2 linked regions of the Homo sapiens genome follow. The protein of the gene in region 2 purifies or fractionates together with the protein of the main gene of each other region. This does not show direct contact. Each region holds a gene or a part of one and is shown on either strand. Other genes may lie near its edges.

Region 1 (8,622 bases), on a different chromosome or scaffold from region 2:
CAGCCTCCCCAGTAGCTGGGATTACAGGCATGCGCCACCATGCCTGGTTAACTTTTGTATTTTTAGTAGAGACAGCGTTTCACTATGTTAGCCAGGCTGGTCTCAAACTCCTGACCTCAAATGATCCACCTGCCTCGGCCTCCCAAAATGCTGGGATTACAGGCGTGAGCCACTGTGCCCAGCCAGGAATTTGATTTTTAATAAATCAGCCAAAATATGTATCATGTTTTAACTAAATAAATTTTAACTTCCTGTACATGTATCTAATTAGAATACCTCAATGCCTTCGTTTTACCAGATTCAAGGACAGTCCTTACCTTCTCCCTGTCTTTGGCCTTGCTTTCCCCTTTGAAGTTCGTGGTCTTTCTAGTTTCATCAAAGACTGACGCAGACTCTCCTCAGTATAGGCAAGATACACGTGAGAAAGGTCCACCTCAAAGGGCTAAGTAAAAGAAACAAACACAAAGCACTCTTAAGGCAAAGAGTTAAAGCCAGATTTGGGGGAAGATTTAAAATACTGAATAAACTCCTTGATCAAACCCACAGAAGCTAAAACCAAAGAAATGTCTAATGACATCATCTTCTAATCCCAGTATCTAAAATGTACTTAATAAAGGTTGGTGAGTAAGAAGCCCTGACACACTATAAATTTCCTTGGACATAAAAACTGTTGCTGTTTTTCTTAAAGCTGCCCCCTCTTCTTCTTCTTTTTTTTTTTTTTTTGAGACGGAGTCTCACTCTGTCGCCCAGGCTGGAGTGCAGTAGCGCGATCTGGGCTCACTGCAAGCTCCACCTCCTGGGTTCACGCCATTCTCCTGCCTCAGCCTCCTGAGTAGCTGGGACTACAGGCACCCGCCACCACGCCCGGCTAATTTTTTTTGTATTTTTTTAGTAGAGACGGGGTTTCACTGTGTTAGCCAGGATGGTCTTGATCTCCTGACCTCGTGATCCACCCGCCTCGGCCTCCCAAAGTGCTGGGATTACAGGCGTGAGCCACCACGCCCGGCCCGCTCCCTCTTCTTCTTGACCTAGGACTAGAACTAGCTTTGAAGAGAAAGAAAGACACATTCTAGTCTCCACCCATAATCCTACGACCCAGAGTGGTAGTGAAAAGAGGACTCCAAAGAGTGAGTCCATGCCCCTCTTGTGGTGGGAATAAGCCTGACATCAAGACTGATGGTAAGCAGAACTGTCCTCCTCATCACCCCATCCTAGAGCCTTTATTCCCAAAAGTATCAGCCCATTTTTCAGCAGAGCTGATTAACAGATATCAAGTTGATAATACAATTTAATGACTCATATTCCTATAAAGAAACAACAGTAGTTTTGTGTTTTGTTTTGTTTTTTTTTAAGTACTCTTACATCTTTCTCCTTTTTATCAGGTACTGGGGTTTGCTTCCTCATGTTATTTCCTGTATAAGCAACACATTTCTCAAAAAAAGAAAAGGGAGAGACAGAGAAATGTCTTAATTAGTAATCAATACTGTGAGTTAGGCAAATAACTGAGAAATCCTAACATTACACTAGTAAAACATGATTTGAATGCTAGAGCAGAAAGGGCCCCAGAGGTCACTTAGTCCCACATAGCCCCTAACTCTGACCATTTCCACCCAGACCATGATCTGTATGTTACAATTAATTACATGGAATTAGAAAAATATTTTATCTGCCCTACTGGATTCTCATCTGATTCATCTACTGGACCATGTTCCTCCCCACTGTAGCCAGCACAATTTCTAGACCATAGGAAGTACTCTTTAATTATTACGTGAAAGAATGAAGGTAATACTCACTAGCTGCCATTCTCCTATGTCTTCATTCCAATGGACATAGTTTTCAATCATTTCCTTTTAAAAGGGTGAAAGATAGCCTATTTTTAATATTTAATAACATCTAAAATATTGAAGTCATAAAACTAAAATCTTAATAACATTGAGTAATAAAAGTCTCAAAACATTATATACTGATATAACCTTTTTATAAATTCTAAAATACATATTTCTTAGGAATGCATGCAGATGAAATAAAACTAAATGAAAATGAAAAAACAACAGAATGAGAAACTTGGGAATCAAGATAATGATTACCTTGGGTTGGAAGAGGCAAAGGAATGAAATAAGGGAAGGGGAAACTGGTTAGAAGTAGTTATTATCAGGGTCCTAGATATTGTTTTGGGTGATGAGTTCATTACAAAATAACTAAATAAAAGCAGGCCATCCAAGGACCAATAAGGAGAATGTACCATGAACCCAGGACTAATTCCATGTACCTGAGGTCCAAAAAAAAAAAAAATGACTAAGACTTATTTTCAGACAAATTTCTTAAAACTGTATTGAGATTCAAAACAGATTTTTAAAAAATTGGCCAGGCATGGTGGTTAACACCTGTAATCCCATCATTTTGGGAGGCCAAAACGGGCAGATCAACCTGAGCTCAGGAACTCAAGACCAGCCTGGCCAACATGGCTAAACCCCATCTCTACTAAATATACAAAAATTAGCTGGGTGTGGTGGTACACGCCTGTAATCCCAGCTACTCGGGAGGCAGAGGCATGAGAATCACTTGAACCCGGGAAGTGAAGGTTGCAGGGAGCCGAGATTGCACCACTGCACTCCAGCCTGGGCAACAAAGTGACTCTGTCTCCCTGACAAAAAAAAAAAAAAAAAAAATCATGTTAAAGTTTACCAAAATGCACTGGAAAGACAAATTTTGGATTAAAAAAAATAGAGGCTGAGATTTTAAAATTATACTAGTACTAAGAATTAGCATCCATCTGGAGATGAATGATGGTACAGGTTGCACAACAATGTGAATGTCCTAAATGCCATTGAACTGCACACTTAAAATAGCTAAGATGGTAAATTTCATGTTATCTATATTTTACCATATACACACACACACACAAAGAATCAGCACCCACAGCAGGGAGAAAAAGGCAGCACAGAGGTTCCATTTATTCTACTTGTATGATAATGGGCGCTGAATGAAGGAATGGGACCTACACCTTGATTCTGATCACATATACATGAATCTGAGTTCGTCTAAAAGGCTAGATACTCAAACAGAGATTATGTATTAAAAGTTAACAACTAAAGTGAAATGTGATGGCATTTGTTCAAAAAATTGTACATTCAATAACTGAAGTATTAAGTATTTATCATCAGTTAAATTAGAAATCTTTGTTCCTTAATCCCAGTCAAGCGACTATCTCGGTCAGAGAACTTCCTTTTTACCTGATAATCCCGAGGTATAAAGTTATCAATAATAAGCATCTGAAGTCGAAGCTCCCGGCTAAGTTGCCGAATGTTCTCCAGTAGGCCTTCAATTTCCCTCTGATGTTCTTGTTGGAGATCAGCCATCTACCAGAAAATCCATAAAAATATTATGAACAAACAAGACTTTAACTACAAAACAGCACCATCTCACATAGGATGCTTGTCTAAGAAACCTTGTGAGAGCTTACCTAGTTCTTTTATAAAAATGATAAACAGCGTGACACTATCAGCATCTATTCTACACTATTTGTTAAGGTTGAAAAGAAACAATTTAGACTAATAGATAAAATTAAAAATTGCACATAAAGAAATATTTTATTTCTTTTAAATTATAAGCTCACATTATGATTATTTATAAATTCTTAATCAAAGAACTCCCTTTTAAAAAATCCAGAACTGCATTAGTAGGTAATTTCTAAGAGAACCAACCTCTGACTTTGCAGCCATCAGCATAGTCCAAACTTTCTTTAACTTCTTGGTCTTTCCCTGTGCTTCCTCTTGCAAACTGGTATATTTTTCTTCAATATCCAAGCGTTCTTGCTATGACAAAAATTAGTAAACTTCAGAATAAATTTCTTTGTAAAATCAAATATCTAATTCTTTAACAAATGACATAAATGTTTAGCAAATCTGATCTTCAAAGCAATCCATAAATATGCTTTAAAATTTCAATACGATTATAGATATTTAGCTTTCCACTAGAAAAGTTAAATCTCTCTGGCAAAATACCAAACTAAAAACAGAAAGTCACATTACCTCTTTTTCCTCAAGTTCTCTGCGAAGTTGCTCTGCTCTTTTCCTCCTTTCTTCCAGTTCCATGTTAGATTCTTCAAGAAGTTTCTCTTGTTCCTCAGCTTTGGCCAACAAGTCAACCCCACCAACAATTACCTTCTTTTCCAGGGCAGATAATTTTTCCAGCAAAGACTGATGCTCTTGTCTGTTGATTAGAATGAGAATACTCTATATTCACTGATGATCTATTATTCTACTAATATCATTTCCCAAAATTTAAAATTTGGATATACAATTTCAAAATAGAAATATAATTATGTAACATCTCTGCCAAATTACACCACTGTGTAGTATCGATTTCTAACTTAATTTATAACTCATTCTAATTCATTGATATGTTTTCCTATCACACGGAAATAAAATAACCAAAATAGATCTAGTTTTTAGAAATACACTATATACAATGGACCCTTCTATCCAAAATAGCTACACTGGAGACAAAAATCCAAGCTTTTAATTACTATTCAATTTTCCTATTTTATATATCCTAGGAAAAAACAGAAATTTAAATCATGAATTCATCTCAATTCAATAATACTCACTGGGCTTTAAGAAGATCTTTTTCCCGTTTCTCTAATTCAGCTCTAGCCTTGTTTCTTTCTTCTTCTTCCATGTCGAGCTTTGTTTCAAGTGCTTTTCTCTCCTCATCAATTTTTGCTTGCATTTCAATCATCTTGTCTGGGGAGACTTTCTTTTTTCCTATTTGAATCATTTAATTGCAACAATCACTAAAATGAATCAATGTTTCAGACTTATATAAATTACCTCCTTCAATATAGAAATGCCTACACTCCTCAATAATACAAAACCAATTATCAATATTTTAAGGAAATCAAACCAATAATATCATGCATTTCCATTTATTATGCTCCTAGAACTTTATAACTCATTGCTAAATTCAAACTGTTGTCCAATTGTACAATGATAACTAAGAACAAAAGCGAAAGAGAAGCAAAATAGATGAGCTAAATAATAGGAAAAGAAAGATTAACAGGAAAGCCAAATTAAAAAATATATATGTCCCCAGATAACAAATATAGGTTAAAAAAAAAGCAACATGATTCTTCAGTTACTTTTTCCTGATAACCAAGTATAAAATCAAGCGACTCCTTAAAATATCTTCCCCAAGTTCACATAAAACAAGTGAATAAAAGTCATATATAGGTATAAAATGCACAGATGAAAATATCAGGCAGAATTTACATCAAGTAGTTTTAATATATTTTTCAGAGTTTTTCTAAAATTTTTGTTTAATAACATTAAAGTATTTTATTTCACAGCATACTTTTAAAGGAAAAAATTCTATACTATGTAATTATGTAACAGTTACATACACAGTAATTAACCAAGCATTTCACAGTTGCTGAGCTGTCAAGATATATCATCATACACTAAAGGAACAACTAAAATAGCTTGTTATTATGTCAAACTCAGGACCCGAAGGCTCCCTAAGTCAGAGTAAACATGCCAAGTGTCAAATATAAGTAGAAATACTACCAAATAATAAAGCTGGAATATGGCTTCCAATTGATTATTTTTGCTAATAATGTCTAATAAAGTATTTTACATACATGTAATAGGTGCTCAAAGAAAGTTTATTAATGAATTTCAAAATAACAAAATCCAAATGAAAAAGAGAAAATAAAACTAGCTTATTAAACTGGTGATGAAACTGAATCAAAGACAATTCATTTCTGGTCATACAGTTTCTTAGAAACATACATTCCTTCAGAAAACCAATAACACTTTTCACAGAATTGGTCTGAGGCTCTCCTAGAACCTTTCCGTCATTCTTAACTTCCTTCCCAAAGAACTACAGAAGAAGAGTGTAAATCATAAGAGTGTATAAATTGTTAATGTCTCCACCCAAAAGCTAACCCCCACCACCTAACAAGGAAAAAGAACTGAAAAATAATTATGATGGAGATATATAACTGAGTATATTTTTTCAGGAACTATGAAATGAAGAATCATTAATAGGCTTTAACTCTTTATGACAAAATTATGTAAAAAACTCTAGGGTTTAAAATACATTATTTGTATAGAACTGTAAGTCCAGAGCAAACCTAAGACACAAGACAAATGAAATAAAAGAGTAAATAAAAGCACTGATCCAAATTCATGCTTTGGTGTGGTGTGATTCATTGCATTCCAAAAGTCAGGATGTAGACTGATTCTATTTACTGGCTTGTTTGGCACAGTCATCTGTATTGAATCTTTTGAATTAGCTGTTAAAAAATAACTTTAAAATAATTTAACTACTATTCCCAAACTACTTATCCCATCAGTCATACTATGTCTTAGAAATTTGAAGGAGAAAAGTATCAGTTCAGGTATATAGTAAGTATACGCATTTAAAAAAGTGTAACTTCCTTTCCACCTGAGAATTATAAATATTTAAAGACAAAATGGGACATATGTTAAGACAAAAATAATAAATGCATGAAGACACTGATGCTAACAGTATAGAGGAAATGATCTAATCAACATATGAACAGTAGTATGTACAGGCTTCAAGGGTTCTAATTGTTTCAATAGTTAAAAACAGTTTCAAAACCCATTAAGAAGCAGTAAAATAAAAAGTTTTTTAAATAAAAAGATTTTACATGTGGAAATACAAAGACACATAACTGTTCATGCATTAATGCATTACATTAGTAATTTAAAACCATTCAGGTATGTTTCCAAACTGATACTTTAGCAGCAAAAATCTTATTGTGGTCTTGTAACACTTTCATGAAGACAATCAAAGATATATAGCCAGGGTTAGTTTCAAAAGCCTAATATTTAAGTAACATATTACTTTAGCCAGAATCACTCTGACAAATCATTATATTTCTCCACAAATAATATTTTAAGCTAAATGTGAATATGTGCTAACTCTCCTAACCAGGTATTTAAAAATGTGACATCAGTAAAAGTCACTTTTATATGTATTTTTCAAAGGACTTTTTTTTAAAAAAACCTTCTTAAACCAATCAAACAAAAAAGAAATCTATTTCTAACAATGCATGATAAAATTCAGCACAAAATTTCAGGTAAATAAATATTTTTAAAAGTTAATGCCATAAACAGTATTTAACTAAACCAGACATAAGTAGCAACATTTTTTTATTGCCCTTTGCCATGTGCTCTAACCAATATTGTGAACGTTAACCGGCCAGGGTAAGTCAAAGGGGAAGAACTTCAGGGCAGTCCTAATTGAATTAATTTCATTTTTATTACATAAGCAACCACGGCATAACCAGGTATTTGATTCTTGGCTTTAAGAAAAAAGGAGAAAAATGTTTGAATGTGAAATAATTTACACTTGTATTTCCAAACTTTGGCTTAATGAGTCTTTAAGAATTTAGGGAAAAAAATGAAGTTCTTTTTAAAAGCTAAAGTTGAAAGATTGTTAAAAATACAAAAGATAGATACTTACCTGGTAAAAAAACTACTAAATTTTAAAAATTTAATGTATTTAAATAACATAGTTCTTTATAGGATAAATAATTGTACCATGTGGAGTGCAAATCAATCACACCAACCTGCTTGATCTTGCAATAAGAAGTAGTAAGCAAATCGCAGACAGGAAGCAATACGCACAGAGATGAGGAGGAAAAAAAGGAAAACATTATTTCTCTTGTGAAACAAAGAAAAATATATAATAGCATTCATTTAAGTGTAGAAATAAAAATCAAACCGTTATCAAAACTGAAATAGAGCCCATGTAAAAAGAAAGCATATTCAACACAACGAGAGATGTCATTTAAGCAAGAATATTAAAGTTAACTTAGTCTTAGATTATAACTCAAGTCAATCTCAAGATCTCACACTGATTCCCCAAGTCCTGCAAAGGTCACAGTTCAACACCATGTGGTTATGCTAACAGAAGACATGGAATTAGGAACCTGCTAAGATCTGGGAAGTAATCTAAAAGGGCAAAACAGAAAATTAAGGCAATTTTAACAACTAGTACATTTAAAGTGACAAAATTCACACTGTCCATATCAAAAATGTCCCAATTCAATATTTCTTTTAGTATATGGATCTATTATAGGCATGCTTCACTTTAAGAAAATCTAACACAAAAACCTGAACCAATCCAACAGATAAATTAGATTACAGTAATTTCCACTGATTATTTGATTAACAGAAAGGTCTAATGAAGAATTTTTAAAGACACAAGTTCTCCCAATACATCCGATTTCCCAACCGGATTAAGGGCTTTTTTTTTTTTCCAGAAAATAAAATTATTACATAAAATGAAGTATACCTGTACAGTAACAAACTTACATTCCTTCTATTAGTAGATTTTTAAGGGTAATTATAAACAATGATTCTACAGGAGTCACTGCCAATTAAGGACTCAAGCAAGAAACACCTTTTAAAAAGGCCATTGAGATATTTAAAAGGGAAGGTACACACAGCAACCACATGCTAGGACAACCATCTCTCCACTTCACCAACACGCCCACATTACAAGAAAAAAATTATGTGCTAGGTACGCAAATAGGAATTAAAACTTCTTGAATTGAACAAAGTACAACTCATTTCATAACATACTTTCATA
Region 2 (9,092 bases):
CTGTCACATGCTACAACATGGATAAGACTTGAAGACATTATGTAAAGTAAAATAAGTAAGTAAATAAGTAAAATAAGCCAGTCACAAAAGGACAAATATGTCCTTGTATGATTCCTCTAATATGAGGTACCTAGAGTAGTCAAATTCACAGGGAAGGAAAGTACAATGGTGGTTGCCAGGAGTGGGAGGGGGAAATGGAGAGTTATTATTTAAGGTACAGAGTTTCAATTTGGGAAGAGAAAACAGTTCTGGAGATAGATGGTAGTAATGGTTGCATAGTAATATGAATATAGTAATGCCAATGAATTGTACACTTAAAGATGACTAAAATGTAAATTTTGTTATGTATATTATATCACAGTTTTTTAAAAACAAAATAAAAACTCTAAAATCTAGACTTATCATCTTATTGCTTAAATCAAAGAAATCACGGAGATCCACCTTGCTTGTATTCTTTGAAAGAAATCAGTCATTCCTTTCTGAATCCTTCTGGGCATAAGCCACAGGAAAACAAATTCTATACTTTTCTCTCATTTTATTTTCAAATCCTGGATCTACTACGCTGTCATTACAGAAGTCTATGATGTTTGTTTCCTTCAGAGTAATGGTCCTTAATCATTCTGGGGTTATAGACGCTTTTGAAGAATCTGATAAAAGCCACTGACCACAATTCTTTATCTGAGGATAATGAAGCTGCTTCATCTAGTTCATATATTAGGCTCTCGAAGATTTATATTTTGAGAGGAACAAAGAACCAAATATGACTGAATTATAGGCAGAAGTGGGAACTCAAAGCTTGCATGCAAGTCAGGCAGAGAGGTGGAAGCTTCAGCCCACCTGCTTTGGAAAAACTCCATCCCACTTCCCTGGGTCTCAGTGCAATATGTGCCCTCAGCAAGCCCAGGCTGAATCTATCTGCCCACCTGGACAGAACCAGGAGCCAGCAGCACTACCCACCTGGCTTACCTCATACTCGGAATGGCGTGGTAGCCCAATCGGAAGCGGAGTTTGCTGGACCCAGCAAAATCTACAATCACCTTTTCCCCCACAGTGTGCATATGCTTAAGGAGTTCAAGGTGTTCCCTGGCCACAGCCTTCAGACTGGAAATGGAGGTCCACGGTAAGACCAGCCAATGGTAACGGGCCTTTGGGTATTTATCCTTTATCACCACCACCTGCTCATCTTTGTAAACCTAGCAGAGGGATACAAGAGAAGGAAACAGACATCTACTAAGAATCTTCTGTGTGCCTGGTTGTTATATTCACTAAGTCACTTAATTCCCACAGTCTTGTGCAAATGGTTTTAATAGCCCAGTTTTGAGAGAGGAGAGCACTGAAATTCAGACAGGTTGAGTGTCTTGCACAAGTCATAGTTCCTAAGAGGGAAATCTAGGATTCCAACTCAGATGTGGTTGACTCCAGAGTCTGTTTTCAACCACCACACTACACAGAATACACAGAAGATGCACAGTACAAAATAGTTCCCAAGAATGTGATGTAAAATCTCTGTAGACATAAATTCAAAAGCATCCTTCTCCACTCCAACATGGCAGACTGTGTGACACGTACACGTGGGTTCCAGTGAGCCCTATTAGACCTGCCCCTTGTCAACAAGGAATATAATTGAAGTGGGACTCAAAGGCTCCTCAAGGATGATGCCTGTTTTTTTTTTTTTTTTTTTTTTTTTGAGATGGAGTTTCGCTCTTGTTGCCCAGGCTGGAGTACAATGGTGCAATCTCAGCTCACCGCAACCTCCACCTCCCGGATTCAAGTGATTCTCCTGCCTCAGCCTCTCGAGTAGCTGAGATTACAGGCATGCACCACCATGCCCAGCTAATTTTTTGTATTTTTAGTAGAGACAGGGTTTCTCCATGTTGGTCAGGCTGATCTCGAACTCCTGACCTCAGGTGATCCTCCCGTCTCGGCCTCCCAAAGTGCTGGGATTACAGGGATGTCTGACTGTTAATGCCAGGGCAGCACAGTACTACTGTCACAGTGTATTATCTCTGATGCTCCCCTGAAAGGAACCATACTAAGGTTAATGCAACTTCCCTTAAAGTACCCAGAAGTTTAAAAGGCACAAGGCAGAGGGGATATTCATTTGAAGAACTCAGCTTTCTCTCCAAACAATGACAGCTGCTACTTTATTGCCAATGTGAAAAGCCTCTTGTTCTCACAGAACAGCCCAATAAAATGAATCTCATTCAGAAAGACTGATATCCTTTGATTTCATTTGTAATTAAGACCTCTGTGGAGTGGTCATTTACAACATGAAATGTACTGAAATTCCAAAATTGTATTCTGACCTGCATTTTGGGGTCCTGCATAGAAATCTTCAAGCCTTGACTCCAGTGGCCCAGGGATTCCTAAAAAAAAAACAAAAAAAAAAACAAAAAAAAAAAAAAACAAGCAATGTAAATTACAAATGCCAATAATTAAATTTGGCAACAGTTAATACTGTGTGATAGCACAACTAAACTTGGAAATAAGCTTAGTTTTTGAGAATTAAACAAGATTCACTTGACTCTGCTTCACTCCATTGCCTTCCTATATTCTCTTTTTTTTTGAGACAAAGTCTCACTCTGTCTCACCCAAGCTGGAGTGCAGCGGCGTGATCACTGCAACCTCCGAAGTGATTCTCCTGCCTCAGCCTCCCAAGTAGCTGGGATTACAGGTGCCCACCACCACGCCCAGCTAACTTTTGTATTTTTTAGTAGAGACGGAGTTTCACCAGGTTGGCCATGCTGGTCTTGAACTCCTCACCTCAGGTGATCCACTGGCCTCCACCTCCCCAAGTGCTGGGATTACAGGCGTGAGCCACCACACCCGACCCTATATTCTTTCTTTTTTTTTTTGAGATGGGGTTTCGCTCTTGTTGCCCAGGCTGGAGTACAATGGCGTGATCTCGGCTCACTGCAACCTCTGCCTCCCGGGTTCAAGCGATGCTCCTGCCCAGCCTCTGGAGTTGCTGGGATTATAGGCATGCACCACCACGCCCAGCTAATTTTGTATTTTTAGTAGAGATTAGGTTTTGCCATGTTGGTCAGGCTGGTCTCGAACTCCTGACCTCAGGTGATCTGCCCATCTCGGCCTCCCAAAGTGCTGGGATTACAGGCGTGAGCCAGCACACCCAGCTGTTTTTTATTATTGTTGTTGTTTTTTGAGATGGAGTCTCGCTCTGTCGCCCAGGCTGGAGTGCAGTGGTGCAATCTCAGCTCACTGCAACCTCCGCCTTCCAGGTTCAAGCAATCCTCCCGCCTCAGCCTCCCGAGTAGCTGGGATTACAAGCATGTGTGTACCACCAGGCCCAGCTAATTTTTGTATTTTTAGTAGACATGGAGTTTCACAATGTTTGCCAGGCAGGTCTCAAACTCCTGACCCTCAAGTGATCTGCCCACCTCGGCCTCCCAAAGCGCTGAGATTACAGGCGTGAACCACTGCACCCAGCCAGCCTTCCTATATTCACAGCTGGCTGTTCTAAATGAAGGCGAGAAATGCCAGAGTATGAGTCATACCTTCTTTGCCCTCTCTCACTGCAGCTACAGCCTGACCAATTCTCCACTTTGACATCAGCATATGAATTACATGATCTATGAAAACCTTCTATAGATGCATAAACAACTGATCCACTTTAGTTGTTCAATGTTAAGTACACACTGCCATTATTGTTGTACCTTCAGGTGGCTTACCTCAGGAATTTAAGAAAAAAGCACATAAAGGAACATTCATCCAAATGATTTTCACGCCACAAACAAGTGACTCTTTCATCATGGTTAATAACCCCTCACGCATTTCTGAACTTTAAAGTGTACAAAACAATTAAGCAGTCATTATATTTCATTTCTTCTCCACATCATCTACCAATCACACTACCCTCACCTTTTTGATAGGTGCATCTTTTCCCTTCTTTAGGGGCACAGAGCATTGGCCAGAGTTGCTCCCAGGTTCCAGCCCTGTCCCAGCCTCAGCTTCCTGAGCAGCATCCCTTTCTATAGAATCACTGTTGCCTGATCTCTTTCTCTTCCTGTGTGTTTCCAGGCCAGGGTTCTTTGCCTCTTCCTCAAACTCTACAATATATGGATAAAGTTCATTCACCATGTGGAGAACCTGGCCAGGCTGCAGCTTCACCTCTTGGTCCTTCCCAATTACGACTGAGTCAATGCTGGTGGGATTGACTCCTACCTATGGAATAAACAATCAGAAAATAATTATAATAATAGCAACAGCACCTACAGTAAGATAGCCACTGCTATGTTAACCACTTACTATATGCCAAGCACCTTGCCTTATGTTCACCTATATTACTCCATCACTTCCATACATGACAGAGAAGCCTTCACTGGCTGGCACAGACACTCTAAAGTCAACAGCATAAGAAAATCATCGAGTATAAAATTCCAAGTTATAAATACACCTACCTGCTTTACCTTGACATATCCCTTGTTACACTCTGCTTTCAACTGTACTGAAAGAGATTGGAAAAAGTTAAACACAAATGCAACAAAGAACCAGGCACTTGCTCCTATCTTCCCTAAAGAAAACAAGCTTCACTACAGGCGGCAGCTGAACAGGTGGTGTTTCCTTAAAGGCCTATTAGCAATCACCTGTTATTGCAGGTGGCTGGAGCTCCAAATCCTACCAATTTCTAAAGGTTTAAATCCTTCCATAAAATGTCCAACAGCGTACATACTCCCTTAGCTATTGCCAAGATCCCTATGAGGCAGCTTCAATTAATCCCCACAAGTTTCCCTATTCCAGAACCCCTGGCCTGCTCATGATCACAGACTCTGCCGCCAGAAAAGAAGACCTGTTTCTCCCAGCCTGGGCAGCATGGCAATACCCCGTCTCTACAAAAAAATACAAAAATTAGCCAGGTGTGGTGGCACATGCCTGTAGTCCCAGCTACTTGGGAGACTGAGGTGGGAGAATCACTTGAGCCCCAGGAGGTGGAGGTTGCAGTGAGTCAAGATCGCACCACTACACTCCAGCCTGGGCAACAGAGTGAGACCCTATCTCAGGAGGAAAAAAAAAAAAAAAAAAAAAAAAAAAGATCCATTTCTCACACGAACTCTTGACCAAGGATTAAATCAGGCTTCCACTATTATTTTGGAAAAACAACAACTATTAGATGCTTTAAAAGATAAAACAGTAAAAGACACATTCCTGGAAAACAGAAACTCAGGTGGCTTTGGGTAGAAGGAGTGGAAAGAATGTTCTAGAAAGATGATTGCAGAGACAGAACAATCTGAGCATGTGTGAGAAGTGGTAACATTAAGCATTCCTGTTCTGATAAATGAACAAGGTATCTGGAGTTGAGACAGGGAGGAAAGAAGAACCACCATAGCTGCTCCCCAGAGAGGACAGGGTGCCACATACATGCCCCTTCAGTTGCTGTTGTGAGGAAGGGAACAGAGAGAGAAGCAGCCACTGCTTCTGCATCTTGGGCCTACTCAGCTCAAGCATGGCTTTGTATCCCTCCACTTAGATTAACTCATATAGGAAAGATCATAATCAGTGCTGCAGATGCCAACTCTCTAAGTTCAGAACCCTTGGGAAACCTTGCTGTGGGGGGGTCACACTCCAGCCAGCAGTGTGCATGTTTACAGGAAAAAACAAGGTACATGGTAAGGATTTTTTTCTGAGGGCAAGGACTTTCATGTTATTAAACCCTAAGACAAGTGCTAGATGCCACTGTCTCATAATACTTTGCGTGAAGCAATATGTAAAGGACGGCACTACCCCATTACTTCTCAGAAAGACATGGTTTCACCTGTAGACTCCAGAGTTTACATCTTGCTGCCCATTGAGCAATGTCCCTGGGGAAAGGAGGGCAGGACTCAATTCCACCATCCCATGGTAACAGTATGAACTTGACTGCTCCCAACCTTCACCCACCCTGCCTTGAACATTATCACATTGGGAGGGCAGAATCAGGAATAAATAGGGCCCTGGTGTTGGCTAAAAGAGCTCAGTTCCTGAGCTGTATTTTTGGCAGACAATAGATTTTCCATCAAGATCACCCAGAAAATATGCATCTTTGGTTATCACTATCCCACATAACCATAGTAATCTCCACATTTCTATGACCAGTTACCTTGCTGTCGAGAACATTTCTTATCAGTGATCTTGGTCTCTGGGCCACGCCCAATCACAACTGCTTCCAAATGTGGAAGTCTGATTCGCTGGTGCCGGCTGTCCTGTCTCACCAACCAGCACACCCGCATCATCACTCTAAGGGACAAAACAAAAGAATCACTAGAAAAACAGATCCACTAGCACGAGTCCTCCAGGGCCACACCCGGTGCCACCACGCATGTGATCTACCAGCTGTTCATCTTGAGGCAAGTGACTTCACCACCCTAGTCTCAATTTCCTCACCTATAAACCATGATAATGATGGGACTCAGGAGGCTGTTGTGAAAATTAAATGAGATAATGTGAGTAAGTATTTACCTCCCTGCCTGAATCATGCTAGGCAATCAAATATTTATTACACATTTATTTATTTATTTATTTTATTTATTTTGAGACAGAGTCTCGCTGTGTCCCCCAGGCTGGCACGCAGTGGCACAATCTCGGCTCACGGCAACCTCCACCTTCCGGGTTCAAGCAATTCTCCTGCCTTAGCCTCCTGAGTAGCTGGGATTACAGGCACCCGCCACCACACCTGGCTAATTTTTGTATTTTTAGTGGAGACAGGGTTTCACCATGTTGGCCAGGCTGGTCTCAAACTTCTGACCTCAGGTGATCCACCCGCCTCTGCCTCCCAAAGTGCTGGGATTACAAGCATAAGCCATCACACCTGGCCTGTTACACATGTATTGATATGTGCTGGACATTAGGCTACATATTGAAAGTCAAAGGATGAATAAAACAGGGACATTGTCCCTGTCCTTGAGGAGCCTGGAGTGCAGTAGGACAGACAGAATCATATACCAATATATACAATATAATGTGATAAACACTACAAGAAGAGAGTAACCAAATATGGCATTAGCCCAGTAAAAGGACTGACTGACTCTTGTGGAGAATATTTTAAAAGGCTTCACGAGGAAGGGATATTAATGTGCGGTTTTAAAGGATGAGAAGGAGTTTGCCTGCCAGAGAACTAAGGACATAAAAAAGATGTTCTCTAGTGCTTAGGTGTCTTTATGTGTCATAGGTTTTCCTTCCCTGTCATGACATACTGATGTTAGAACAATATATTTCACTCCCATCTGCCAGGAGACAGTCATAATAAATATGCAAATCTACAATTTCTTTACTTTTTTTTTTTTCTGAGACGGAGCTTCACTCTTGTTGCCCAGGCTGGAGTGCAATGGCACAATCTTGGCTCACTGCAACCTCTGCCTCCTGGGTTCAAGCGATTCTCCTGCCTCAGCCTCCCGAGTAGCTGGGATTATGGGCATGTGTCACCACAGTCAGCTAATTTTATATTTTTAGTAGAGACTAGGTTTCTCCATGTTGGTCAGTCTGGTCTCGACCTCCTGGCCTCAGGTGATCCGCCTGCCTCGGCCTCCCAAAGTGCTGGGATTACAGGCATGAGCCACCGTGCCCGGCCGCAAACCTACAATTTCTAAAGTGTGAATGTGACAATTTTGTGCAATACGCAACGCGCAAAACAATGGAAGTGCTGATATTCTTTTGAAAAACAACCCTTATGGCCATGTGGACTATCAGTAAAAGAGAAAGAGACAAGAAATTCAGAAGAGAGATGAGACCTCAACAATGGCCGAAGCAAAGGGGATGGAGAGCAAGAAGAGCCAGGAGAAATCTGGAAGACATACTTAATTACTGATGACATTTGGGGAATGACAAAGGAATAAAAGGACACACTGGCCAGGTGCGGTGTCTCAGGCCTGTAATCCCAGCACTTTGGGAGCCCAAGGCAGGCGGATCACGAGGTCAGGAGTTTGTGACCAGCCTAGCCAACGTGGTAAAACCCTATCTCTACTAAAAATACAAAAATTAGCCAGGTGTGGTGGCAGGTGCCTCCCACCTACTCGGGAGGCTGAGGCAGGAAAATTGCTTGAACCCAGGAGGCGGAGGTTGCAGTGAGCAGAGATCGCACCATTGTATTCCAGCCTGGGCGATAGGGCAAGGCTCCATCTCAAGAAAAAAAAAAAAAGGCGAGACACTCACCAAAGACTTCAAATTTGGAAGATGCCCATTAACAAAAATGAAAAATACACAAGGAGACATAATTTGGGGATAAAAAGGAAAGTGAAGAGAGAAGGACCAATTTCATATTGAAATGTAATTATTTTAAGTTGCCTGTGGAAGATCCAAGACTCAAGCTGTGATATGTGGGTATGAAGCTCAAGAGAGGGGAATGGACTAAATGCATATATTTGAGAGGCATCAACATGTCACAGAGGCTGAGGCAAAGAGAGAGAGGATGAGATCACCCAATGAGGTGAAACAGGGAATTATGGGCAGAGAGAGATTGCCTCTCTAGACTCCAGACTCTTATCAGTGCTCAAGCCTCTAACATGCCTCTCCCGGAAACCTGCCTATAGTCAAGGCAGCACATATGCCCTCTGCACAAGTTTCATGTCCATAAGCAAAGAAAAAAGAAACCCGATTTTTAAAAATCAGTTTCATTACCATCTGCAAAGACAAGACAATGCAAGGCAAAGTGAGCAAATGACAGCTGAGGAGATGCAAATTCAAATGAATAAGATTAGTGCGAGTATATGAGTACTAAGGAGGTAAAAAGTCCTGTATTAGCCAGTACAGGCTTCCAGAAACCTCCTGGTTAGAGATGGCTAGGAGCCAAGGGGACTGATAAAGAAGAAATGGAGTGGGAGGGGCCATTCCATTTTAAAAAGCACAAGTGACAACACAGATTTCGGCAATGGCAAGCCATAGGTCGGGGTAAAAGCAGACTTAGTTGGCTGAACCAGAGGAGCTGCCTCGGAGAGTCACAAAAAAAGACAGAGGTGTTGAAAGAATACTAGGCTGAAAAGTTTACATTTACCATAATCAAGAGGAGACAACTGCCAGGTTTTGAGCTTCACAGTAAGATAAAACAACAGCATCCAAAGAACACTTAACAGCTGTGTGTAGGCAGTCTAGCATGGAGAAATCCA

Evidence for each region. The genes of interacting proteins can lie anywhere in the genome.
Region 1: the proteins of APTX (region 2) and KIF3A purify together in Homo sapiens (affinity purification with mass spectrometry; 2 studies listed by BioGRID and IntAct, with this or other methods). This does not show direct contact.

What each region holds. Positions count from the first base shown.
Region 1 is NC_000005.10:132,698,854-132,707,475, forward strand, and holds part of KIF3A (kinesin-like protein KIF3A), read right to left. Parts: intron 7,607-8,622; coding exon 7,598-7,606; intron 4,767-7,597; coding exon 4,610-4,766; intron 4,213-4,609; coding exon 4,032-4,212; intron 3,816-4,031; coding exon 3,705-3,815; intron 3,360-3,704; coding exon 3,234-3,359; intron 1,848-3,233; coding exon 1,794-1,847; intron 1,432-1,793; coding exon 1,363-1,431; intron 443-1,362; coding exon 318-442; intron 1-317. UniProt on the Homo sapiens protein: Microtubule-based anterograde translocator for membranous organelles. Plus end-directed microtubule sliding activity in vitro. Plays a role in primary cilia formation. Plays a role in centriole cohesion and subdistal appendage organization and function.
Region 2 is NC_000009.12:32,983,665-32,992,756, forward strand, and holds part of APTX (aprataxin), read right to left. Parts: intron 6,256-9,092; exon of another isoform or gene 6,232-6,255; 5' UTR 6,228-6,231; coding exon 6,095-6,227; intron 4,466-6,094; coding exon 4,419-4,465; intron 4,183-4,418; coding exon 3,880-4,182; intron 2,367-3,879; coding exon 2,307-2,366; intron 1,194-2,306; coding exon 967-1,193; intron 1-966. UniProt on the Homo sapiens protein: DNA-binding protein involved in single-strand DNA break repair, double-strand DNA break repair and base excision repair.